2 separate regions of the Homo sapiens genome follow, and region 1 is linked to region 2. Evidence: fine-mapped expression QTL. A gene starts in region 2. The other region holds a variant in brackets. All regions are shown on one strand. Distances are between the middles of the regions. Region 1 has its middle 6.5 kb from the start of PRDX1. Region 2 holds the start of TESK2 (testis associated actin remodelling kinase 2).

The links. PIP is the estimated chance that this variant, and not a neighbour inherited with it, causes the effect.
Region 1: its variant is the best candidate, but not a certain one, in a credible set for the expression of TESK2 in whole blood (INTERVAL, PIP 0.56).

The regions. Positions count from the first base shown.
Region 1 is chr1:45,525,663-45,531,038 of GRCh38, reverse strand. It overlaps the pseudogene HMGB1P48. Among named protein-coding and RNA genes, the nearest start is that of PRDX1, 6.5 kb to the right of the region's middle. RefSeq lists an enhancer at 3,477-3,985. The variant C/T (reference allele first, on the strand shown) is at 2,798.
Region 2 is chr1:45,488,227-45,493,602 of GRCh38, reverse strand. It overlaps TESK2 (testis associated actin remodelling kinase 2), which reads left to right and starts at 2,440. Exons shown (of 11, transcript NM_007170.3): 1 at 2,440-2,751. RefSeq lists enhancers at 2,152-2,446, 2,733-2,782 and a silencer at 2,283-2,502.

The DNA.
Region 1 (5,376 bases), 37 kb before region 2:
TGAGAAGCTGACTGAAGCCTCTGGGTGCTTATGTTCCTCCCGACAAGTTTTGCACGAAAAATGCATATGATGACATTTTGCCTCTAGGTTTCTGAGGATCTCCTTTGCTCATGTCTAGTTATTTTTCCTCAGTGAGGCACAGAGTCACCCTGTGCCTGTCAGGCTCTCACTTGCCCTGGTGCTGTCTCTATGGAGCTTAACATACTGTAACAGCTGTCTACTTCTTTTTTTTTTTTTTTTTTTTGAGACAGAGCCTTGCTCTGTAGCCCAGTCTGGAGTGCAGTGGCATGATCGCCTCCCGGGTTTAAGCGATTATCCTGCCTCAGCCTCCAGAGTAGCTGGGATTACAGGTGTCCACCACCACGCCTGGCTATTTTTTTTGTATTTTTAGTAGAGACGAAGTTTCACCATGTTGGCCACGCTGGTTTAGAACTCCTGACCTCAAGTAATCTGCCTGCCTCGGCCTCCCAAAGTGCTAGGATTACAGGCGTGAGCCACTGTGCCCTGCCTTACTTGCTTTTTATCATTTTGTTTTGCTTTTTTTTTGTTGAGGCAGGGTCTTGCTCTGTTGCTCAGGCTGGAGTGCAGTGGTGCATTCATGGCTCACTGTGGCCTAAACCCCCTAGATTCAATCAATTCTCTCATCTCAGCCTCCTGGGTAGCTGGGACTACAGGCATGCGTCATCATGTTTGGCTATTTTTTGTTTGTTTGTTTAATTTTTTGTAGAGATGGGTACCCCTATGTCGCCCAGGCTGGTCTCCAACTCCTGAGCTCAAATGATCCTCTCATCTCGGCCTCCCAAAATGCTGGGATTACAACCATGAGCCACTCCACCTGGCCCTGTCTACTTGCTTTTTTTTTTTTTTTTTTTTTTTTGAGACGGAGCTCGTCTTGTTGCCCAGGCTGGAATGCAAATGGCGCGATCTTGGCTCACTGCAACCTCCACCTCCCAGGTTCAAGCCATTCTCCTGCCTCAGCCTCCCGAGTAGTTGAGATTACAGGCATGTACCATCACGTCCGGCTAATTTTGTATTTTTCGTAGACACGGGGTTTCTCCATGTTGGTCAGGCTGGTCTTGAGCTCCCAACCTCAAGTGATCCACCCGCCTCGACCTCCCAAAGTGCTGGGATTACAGGCGTGAGCCACTGTGCCCGGCCCTGTCTCCTTGTTAAATGGGAAAAATTAATCCCCTATTTGGTTAAGCTTGTTATTTGCAGTTAATCTGTTACTTTCAGTTGCATTCAATTTTAACAAATAGATATCCTTGATAACAGTGTTTCTGAAATTGGTATTTGTAGGCCTCTGTACATTCAAATATAATTTTAAAAATTGAATCCTTGTAAATTGAAGAATTCAACTGTTTTCTTTTAGTGATAATCTAAAAAAATTTAACATAAACATATTCTAAATCATCTGTATGAAAAATAAGCCCGGTAGTGGTGACTCAGCCTGTAATCCCAGTACTTTGAGAGGCCGAGATGGGTGAATCCCTTGAGACCAGGAGTTCGAAACCAGACTGGACAACATGGCGTAACCCTGTCTCTATTAAAAATACAAAAATCAGTCAGGCATGGTGGCACATACCTGTAATTCCAGCTACTTGGGAGGCTGAGGCACAAGAATCACTTGAACCCAGGAGGTGGAGGTTGCAGTGAGCCGAAACCATGCTGCTGCACTCCAGTCTGGGCAGCAGAGCAAGACTCTGTCTCAAAAAAAATAAAATAAATAAAAGAAAAATGAGTGCTGTCTTGTGATTTGGGTTCCCATTATTTTATTTTATTATTTTTTGAGACAGGGTCTCACTCTGCTCACTCTGTCACCCAGGCTGGAGTACAGTGGTGCCATCTCGGCTCACTGCAGCCTCGAGCTCTGGGACTCAAGCAATCCTCCCACCTCAGCCTCTGGACTAGTTAGGACCACAGGCACACACCACCACACTGGGCTAATTTTTTATTTTTTGTGGAGATGGTGAAGGGGTGGGTTGCCCCTCCACACCTGTGGGTGTTTCTTGTTAGGTGGAACGAGAGACTTGGAAAAGAAAAAGACACAGAGACAAAGTATAGAGAAAGAAATAAGGGGACCCAGGGGACCAGCGTTCAGCATATGGAGGATCCCGCCAGCCTCTGAGTTCCCTTAGTATTTATTGATCATTTGTGGGTGTTTCTCGGAGAGGGGGATGTGTCAGGGTCACAAGACAATTGTGGGGAGAGGGTCAGCAGACAAACACGTGAACAAAGGTCTTTGCATCATAGACAAGGTAAAGAATCAAGTGCTGTGCTTTTAGATATGCATACACATAAACATCTCAATGCTTTACAAAGCAGCATTGCTGCCCGCATGTCCCACCTCCAGCCTTAAGGAGGTTTTTCCCTATCTCAGTAGATGGAACGTACAATCGGGTTTTATACCGAGACATTCCATCGCCCAGGGACGGGCAGGAGACAGATGCCTTCCTCTTGTCTCAACTGCAAGAGGCATGCCTTCCTCTTATACTAATCCTCCTCAGCACAGACCCTTTACGGGTGTCGGGCTGGGGGACGGTCAGGTCTTTCCCTTCCCACGAGGCCATATTTCAGACTATCACATGGGGAGAAACCTTGGACAATACCTGGCTTTCCTAGGCAGAGGTCCCTGCAGCCTTCCGCAGTGTTTGTGTCCCTGGGTACTTGAGATTAGGGAGTGGTGATGACTCTTAAGGAGCATGCTGCCTTCAAGCATCTGTTTAACAAAGCACATCTTGCACAGCCCTTAATCCATTTAACCCTGAGTTTGACACAGCACATGTTCCAGAGAGCA[C/T]GGGGTTAGGGGTAAGGTCATAGATTAACAGAATCTCAAGGCAGAAGAATTTTTCTTAGTACAGAACAAAATGGAGTCTCCTATGTCTACTTCTTTCTACACAGACACAGTAACAATCTGATCTCTCTTGCTTTTCCCCCACAGATGGAGTTTCGCCATGTTGTCCAGGTTGATCTCAAATTCCTGGGCTCAAGTGATCTGCCCACCTCGGTCTCCCAAAGTGCTGGCTTTACAGGCATGCACCACCATGCCCGGCGTCCATTATTTTATTTTGCATTTGTTGTTACAATTATCTGAGAGCATTTAGTTTCATGGTTTATAGGTTTAATTTTAATGGTTTATAAGTTTATAGCAGGCTGCTATCAGGTTAGCAAGTCCTACTGTTAAAATGATTGCTGTCCTGGGACATGGGCTTTATACTTACATTGAATTGCCTTACCTTTTACATTTAGTTGGCTGTGAAGAAGAGACAATGGCTGTTGATGAGTCAGGTAACTGTCTCCCACAGCAAATTAGTGCAGTGATGTAACTACTGCTTTTTTTTTTTTTTGAGACGGAGTCTTGTTCTGTTGCCCAGGCTGGAGTGTAGTGGTGCGATCTTGGCTCATTGCAACCTCTGCTCCTGGGTTCAAGCAATTCTCCTGCCTCAGCCTCCCAAGTAGCTGGGATTACAGGGGCACACTGCCACACCCGGTTAATTTTTTTTTTTTTTTTTGTATTTTAGCAGAGACGGGGTTTCACCATGTTGCCCAGGCTGGTCTTGAACTCCTGAGCTCAGACAATCTACCTGCCTCGGCCTCCCAAAGTGCTGAGATTACAGGCATGAGCCACCACACCCGGCATTTTTTTTTTTTTTTTTGAGATGGAGTCTCGCTCTTGTCATCCAGGCTGGAGTGCAGTGGTGCCATCTTGGCTCACTGCAACCTCCGCCTCCCGGGTTCAATCACTTGTCCTGCCTCAGCCTCCCAAGTAGCTGGGACTACAGGTGCCCACCACCATGCCCAGCTGATTTTTGTGTTTTTAGTGGAGACGGGGTTTCACCATGTTGGCCAGGCTGATATCGAACTCCTGACCTCAGATGATCCTCCTGCCTTGGCCTCCCAAAATGTTGGGATTACAGGCGTGAGCCACCGCTCCCGGCCTGTTTAACATTATTTTAAACCTCAAACCTGCTTTTCTTCCAGTGTTTCCTATGTCACAGGTTAATGACATCACTCATGTCACCAAGAAACTGGATTTAATTTACTCTTTCCTTTCATCCTAAATCCAATTAATCCTAAAGCCTGAAGAAATATACCTTGTATTTCCTTCTTTCTACCCTGCTGCTAATGTCATATTACAGTTCTGAGACTTCTCTTGTCTGGATCATTGCCGTGGCCTCCCAATTGCTCTCTTTGCCTAATCTCCTAGTCACTAAATTCATTCATCACACAGCTTCCAGAGTCAACTTCCTGAAACGTAGTTCAAATAATTTAATTCTACATCTCAAAAGTCTTCAACACATTGTAACATTTATTAAGTACTTCTATGCCAGTTACTGTGCTAGACTTGTTACTACAAATATAAATAAAACAAGGGGAATAATTCCCATGCTAATGGTGAGCAAATGAAGAGAGCACAATGGAATATATCTAAAAATAGAACTAGAGGTATACATCAGACCCTGCAAGAAAGCCTCCTCCCCATGGTTCTGAAATCTTTACTGTCCTTTGGAGAGACTCTACAAATCACTTAGACTTGTTCAACAGATTTCTTCTTTTTTCAGTACTCTGTCCAGTTATTTCACTTTTATGATCTTAAGGGGATAGACTGTTAACATTTCTCTAGGCTAGGATAACTCTTTTTTTTTCCTGTTTTTTTTTCTTTGTTTGTTTAGAGACTGGTTCTTGCAGCACTGCCTAGGCTGGGCTCAAACTCCAGGGCTCAAGTGATCCTCTCACCTCAGCCTACCAAGTAGCTGGGACTATAGTCACATGCCAAATGTGCTCCACTCTCTTTTAGTTCTTTTTTCTTTTCTTTTTTTCTTTTTTCTTTTTTTTTTTTTTTGAGACAGAGTCTTGCTCTGTTGCCCAGGTTGGAGTGCAGTGGCGGGATCTCAGCTCACTAAAACCTCTGCCTCCCGGGTTCAAGTGATTCTCCTGCTGCAGCCTCCTGAGTAGCTGGGATTGCAAGTGCCTGCCACCACGCCCAGCTAATTTTTGTATTTTTAGTAGAAACAGGTTTTCACCATGTTGGTCAGGCTGGTCTGGAACTACTGACCTCATGATCTGCCCACCTTGGCCTCCCAAAGTGCTGGGATTACAGGCTTGAGCCACCATGCCCGGCTTTTGTTCTTTTTTTTTAGACGGAGTCTCACTCTGTCACTCAGGCTGGAGTGCAGTGGCGCGATCTCGGCTCACTGCAACCTCCGCCTCCTGGGTTCAAGAGATTCTCCTGCCTCAGCCCCCTGAGTAGCTGGGACTACAGGTGCACACCACGAAACCCAGCTAATTTTTGTATTTTTAGTAGAGATGGGATTTCTCCATGTTGGCCAGGCTGGTCTCAAACTCCTGACCTTGTGATCTGCCCGCCTTAGCCTC
Region 2 (5,376 bases):
TGCCTAGGCTGGTCTTGAACTCCTGGGCTCAAGTGATCCTCCTGCCTCAGCTTCCCTAGTAGCTAGTACTACAGGCATGTGATGCCACACCCAGCTAATTATAAAAGGATTTTTGTTTGTAGAGATGTGTCTCACTATGTTGCCCAGGCTGGTCTCAAACCCTTGGGCTCAAGAGATCCTCCTACCTCAGTCTCCCAAAGCCCTTGGGATTACAGGTCTGAGCCCACACACCCAACCTCAACAGAAATATTAAATAGCAATGTGGAAAATTGTTATTTGAGCTGTCACCAGGTGGCAGCACATGATTTGTTGCCAGAAGAATGGTACCAAAAAGCCTTTGGTCAGGGGGACTGGGCTGGGGTGATCTCTCTTCTCCCTTCAGAGATTCTGTGAGCTACCAATTAATCTTCCTAAAACACTGCCCTGTTTAGTTTATGGTCCTGCTCAAGAATAGCTCTCACAGCATAAAAAACAAAAGACAAATTTGAATATTGGCATTTAAGCCCAACCCACATGCAGCCTCTTCTCTCTCCAATATCTCCTACCACACTTCTTTCTTTCTTTTTATATTTTTTTGGGACAGGGTCCTGCTCTGTTGTCCAGGCTGGAGTGCAGTGGCACCATCCACAGCTCACTGTAGCCTTGACCTCTGGGCTCAGGTGATCTTCTGGCTTTAGCCTCCCAAGTAGCTAGGACCACAGGTACATGCCACCATTTTGGGCTCATTTTTTTTTTTTTTTCTGTACAGACAGGGTCTCGCTATGTTGCCCAGGCTGGTCTCAAACTCCTGGCTTCAAGTGATCCACCTTGGCCTCCCAAAGTGCTGAGATTACAGAAGTGAATCACTGTGTCTGGCCATATTTTTTTTTTTTTTTTTTTTTTGAGACGGAGACTTGCTGTGTCGCCCAGGCTGGAGTGCAGTGGTGCGATCTTGGCTCACTGCAACTTCTGCTTCCCGGGCTCAAGCGATTCTCTTGCCTCAGCCTCCTGAGTAGCTGGGACTACAGGCACGCGCCAATACACCCAGCTAATTTTTCTATTTTTAGTAGAGACGAGGTTTCACCATGTTTGCCAGGATGGTCTCGATCTTCTGACTTCGTGATCCCCCTGCCTCGGCCTCCCAAAGTGGTGGGATTACAGGCGTGATCCACTGCTCCCGGCCCTGGCCATATTTCTTAAACTTTATGGCCACCAGGAATGCATACCACTTATACTCTTCCAGGAGGATGAAAGTCTTAAGATGTCTGAAAAGGGGTCTCTAACCCCTGGGAGTGCTAATACAGTAAGGCCCATACTGCTTGCTCTTGCCCTCCTCCTGTTCTAGTCTCTTCAGTCATGAGATTATGAGCTCCTGATGTCCAGGCACATGCAAAAAGTGAAGAAATATGTGCCTTGAACAGCTGGGCAGAATTCTTAGCTGGGAGCGGTGGCTCACGCCTGTAATCCCGGCACTTTCGTAGGCCAACGTGGGCCGATCACTTGAGTCCAGGAGTTACAGACCAGCCTGGGCAACATGGTAAACCCCGTCTCTACAAAATATACAAAAAATTAGTCAGGCATGCTGGCGTGTGCCTGTAGTCCCAGCTATCCGGGGAGGCTGAGTTGGGAGGATCATCTTAATCCAGGAGTTTGAGGCTGCAAGTGAGCCATGATCGCTCCATTGCACTCCATCATCCTGGGCGACAGAGTGAGACCCTTCTAAAAAAAAAACAACCAACAAAAACAACAAAAAATCCCAACTTATTCCCCACCAGCTTTCTTTCAAAATCTGTTTTCAAGCTAGCTGAAGTGTTACCTCCTCTAAGCTTTCACTTAACCGAATCTCATAGTCATGATTAATTGCTTCCCTAGCATTTTGTTTAGCTCTACTGATTGCTCTTACTATTTCAAGTCGGTATTATTGATATATTTTTTCCTCCTCACTATACTGAAATCCTGCAGGACGCAGCATTCTTACCGCTTTTCCTTACTCAGCTATACCTTGACCAACCCGAAAGCCGCGCCAGTCTAGTCCATTTTCTATTGGCTTTATCAATTACCAATCATTTCTGTGTTTAACATTTTTATTGGTCCATCTTGTGTTTACTGCCCCGCCCTCTAAGAGGCTCCTGGACTTGGGTTTCCCCCAGGTGTATTCCCTCCTCCTCGGTTCCGCCTTTCCCACACACTGCTTCTTCTGTTTTTACCTCGACTTCCTTCCTATTGGTTCCCTTCGTCCTCCGGAGTTGGCACCTACGGCTGTTGATTGGCTTTTCTGGACGCCCATTGTGCCCACCCTCATACCACGTGGCATTCCTAGCGCTAATTGGGCAATTCCACTACCTCGTTTATCAGGAGTTGACGGTTGACTGGCTACTCTGAGGGAGGGCTTGAGGGAGGGGCGTGGCCAGCCGAGACCCCGCCCCCAACCCCCCTGCTGGGCCGGGTAGGCGTTTCAGTCTTTCGCGGCCCGGGAGCTCAGCAGAGCTACCAGCTGCCCTGTTGGCTTCGCTGGTCGGATCGTCCTCCTGGCCCCGCCAAACAGGCGGGGGGAGCGGCCCCGACTGTGGGGCCATGGCAGTAGTCTCCTCGTTCGCCGCCGCCGCTAGCCTAGCTGAGTCGCCGGCTTCTGCGCTAGGGGCTCCCACCGCCTCCGCAGGCTAAGGAGCCGCTGCCACCAACGAGCTGTGAGGGTTACTATGCTCCCTCTTTGCCGCCGTCTCCTCCTCTTGCCCGCGCAGGCACCCCTCTGGCTGCTCAGTCCTGCCTCAGGTAACGTGAAAAGAGGACGGGGGTCACAAACCCGGGCATCCTGCCTGGCCCGCGCGCGCTGCCGCTCCACCTCCTCTGCCCCGGAGCAGAGGCGCCTGCGTCCCTCCGCACCCGACGGGACCCCTCGGCTTCCCAGAGGTCCCCCTCTCAGCGGCGGCGGACGCTCCCTTCCTGGCCGCTTTCCCCTTTCCTTCTCACTTCCCTCAGGCTCCCCGCCACGTCTGCTCCCCCTTAGAACCTGGGAACCCATTAGAAGTTACCTCGCTCGCATTAGGGATCTTTCGTTTTCTCGGAAAACTCTTGTTTCAGAGACTTCCAGCTCCCCACTGAGCGCCTCCCTGCTCGCATACCCGCTCCTGCCTCAGAGATCTGGGTTCCTTCACTTGACTTCCCTCCGATACACTCTTCCCTCGAAAACGTTCACCTCTACCCAGGAAAACAATTCCCTCCCCTCAGACCCTACTGCCTTCCCCCTCTTCTTTCCTCGCTTGTCATCGTCTCCCTTCCTTTCCCCTCTCTGCTTTTTACTCTTCGCTGTGAAGAGTGGACTAAGCCAGTGTTCAGATTTCGCTACAAGCGAAATCCAGGTTTGCGTAATTTAAAAGTCTTTAAATTGTATACCTCTGAGAAGAACTTGCTGAGGAATTTGGACTTCATGCTGCATGCATGGGGAGCCGTTGAAGGTTTTGTAAGCAGGAGCTTGGTATGATTGCATTATCTTTGGTGAAAATATAGAGGAAGGATTGAAAGTGAAGACCGTGGAGGCGGAAAGGCCAGGTAGGCAGAAAACGAGTGTGCTCATCCAGGCGGGAGGGAATGGCCCGAAATTCCAAGAGGTTTCAAAATAAAGTTGAGAAGAATAGTAGAAAGTTTCTGACTTGGCTGATGGTGTGAATCGGTAGTGTTAATTGAAATAGGGAACATAGTCTCTGGTTATACCACCCTCAACGCTCCTGATCTCATCTGAAATAGGGAGCATAAAAAAGCAATTTTGAGAGAAGGTAATAAATTTGGTTTTGAACAAGTTAAGTTTCAGGGTTTGTTTGTTAGTTTTTGTTTTTTTTGACGGAGTCTCATTCTGTCACCCAGGCTGGAGTGCAGTGGCACGATCTCAGCTCACTGCCACCTCCTCCTCCCAGGTACAAGCGATTCTCCTGCCTCAGACTACCGAGTAGCTGGGATTACAGGCATGCGCCACCACGTCCGGCTAATTTTTGTACTTTTAGTAGAGACGGGGTTTCCCCACGTTGGCCAGGCTGGTTTCGAACGTCTGACCTCAGTCAATCCGCCCACCTCGGCCTCCCACAGTGCTGGGATTACAGGCGTGAGCCACTGCTCCCAGCCGAGTTTGAGGTGTTTTGAAATATCACTGTGGGTATCTGGAAATTTGGGTCTGAAAATTGGGAGAAAGCTTGGACCTGGATACATAAATTTGGAGGGTCAAGAGAATATATGGGGGATATTTGTGTGCCTTAGTATGGAATGGTAATACTGAAAGATGAGAAGGGCTGTGGACCAGAAGGAGCATCATTGTTTGAAAGGTAATAGACACTGAAAAAGAGAGATTAAAGGAACGGGACAAGAACTAGAACATAACAGCATTATAATAGGAGCCAAAGAAAGGATTTCAAGAAGGGAGTGGGGGGCGGTGACTATCAATGTCACGTGCTTTCGAGGTCCAGCTGAATGAGAGTTAAGAAGCTTTTTTTTTTTTTTCTTTGGTGTCAGGGTCTCACTCTGTCGCCCAGGCTGGAGTGCAGTGGTGCAGTCTCGGATCCTCCCACCTCAGCCTTCTGAGTAGCTGGGATCACAGGCAGGAGCCACCACACCCAGATAATTTTTTGTATTTTTTGTAGAGACGGGATTTCTCTGCGTTGCCCAGGCTGGTCTCGAACTCCTGAGCTCAAAGCTATCTGCCTTCCCCGGCCTCCCAAAGAGCTGGGGTTACAGGGGTGAGCCATCATGCCTGGCCTGCCCTATATTTAGCAATCAGGAGGTCACTTGTTTCCTCTGAAATGCAGTTTTGGTAGGGTGGGGATGGCAAAGAAGGTAGTAGTGAGATCATGATGGATTGAGGAATAAATGAGGAGAAATGAGTAAAATTATTCTCCAGAGTTTGGTTGTGAAGGAGAGCTGGTTCTAGTGAAACTCATCTTTATTGAGAATATACTATATGCCAGGTACATAAAGATGCTTTATAGATCACAACAGCCTTGTGGTTAACATGTCAGTATCCCTCTTTTACAGTGGAGAGTACTGTGGACAAGGATTTGAGCAGGTATGTCTAGTTCTGAAACCTGTGTTCTTTCCATTATGGCACATGTGTGTTTTTCTTTTCAGTACAGGTGAAACAGTTCTGTAAGTGAGGGGAAGGTTCATCTAGGAAATATGTCAGTCAGGCATTTTGCCCTTTGACACCAAAAGGATAGTAGTGAAAATGGATAATGATGTGGTAGAAGGGAAGGAAAGTGAGGGAGTTTAACAGATGGCCTTATCGATGTGATTACTTATCTGTGGAGAAGTCAGTTTGGAGACTGAAGACACTATGGTGAGTTTCTGACTTGAGTATTATGGCCATGGGAATCTTAAATGGAAAATGAAAGAGAATAAAGATTTAACAAAAAA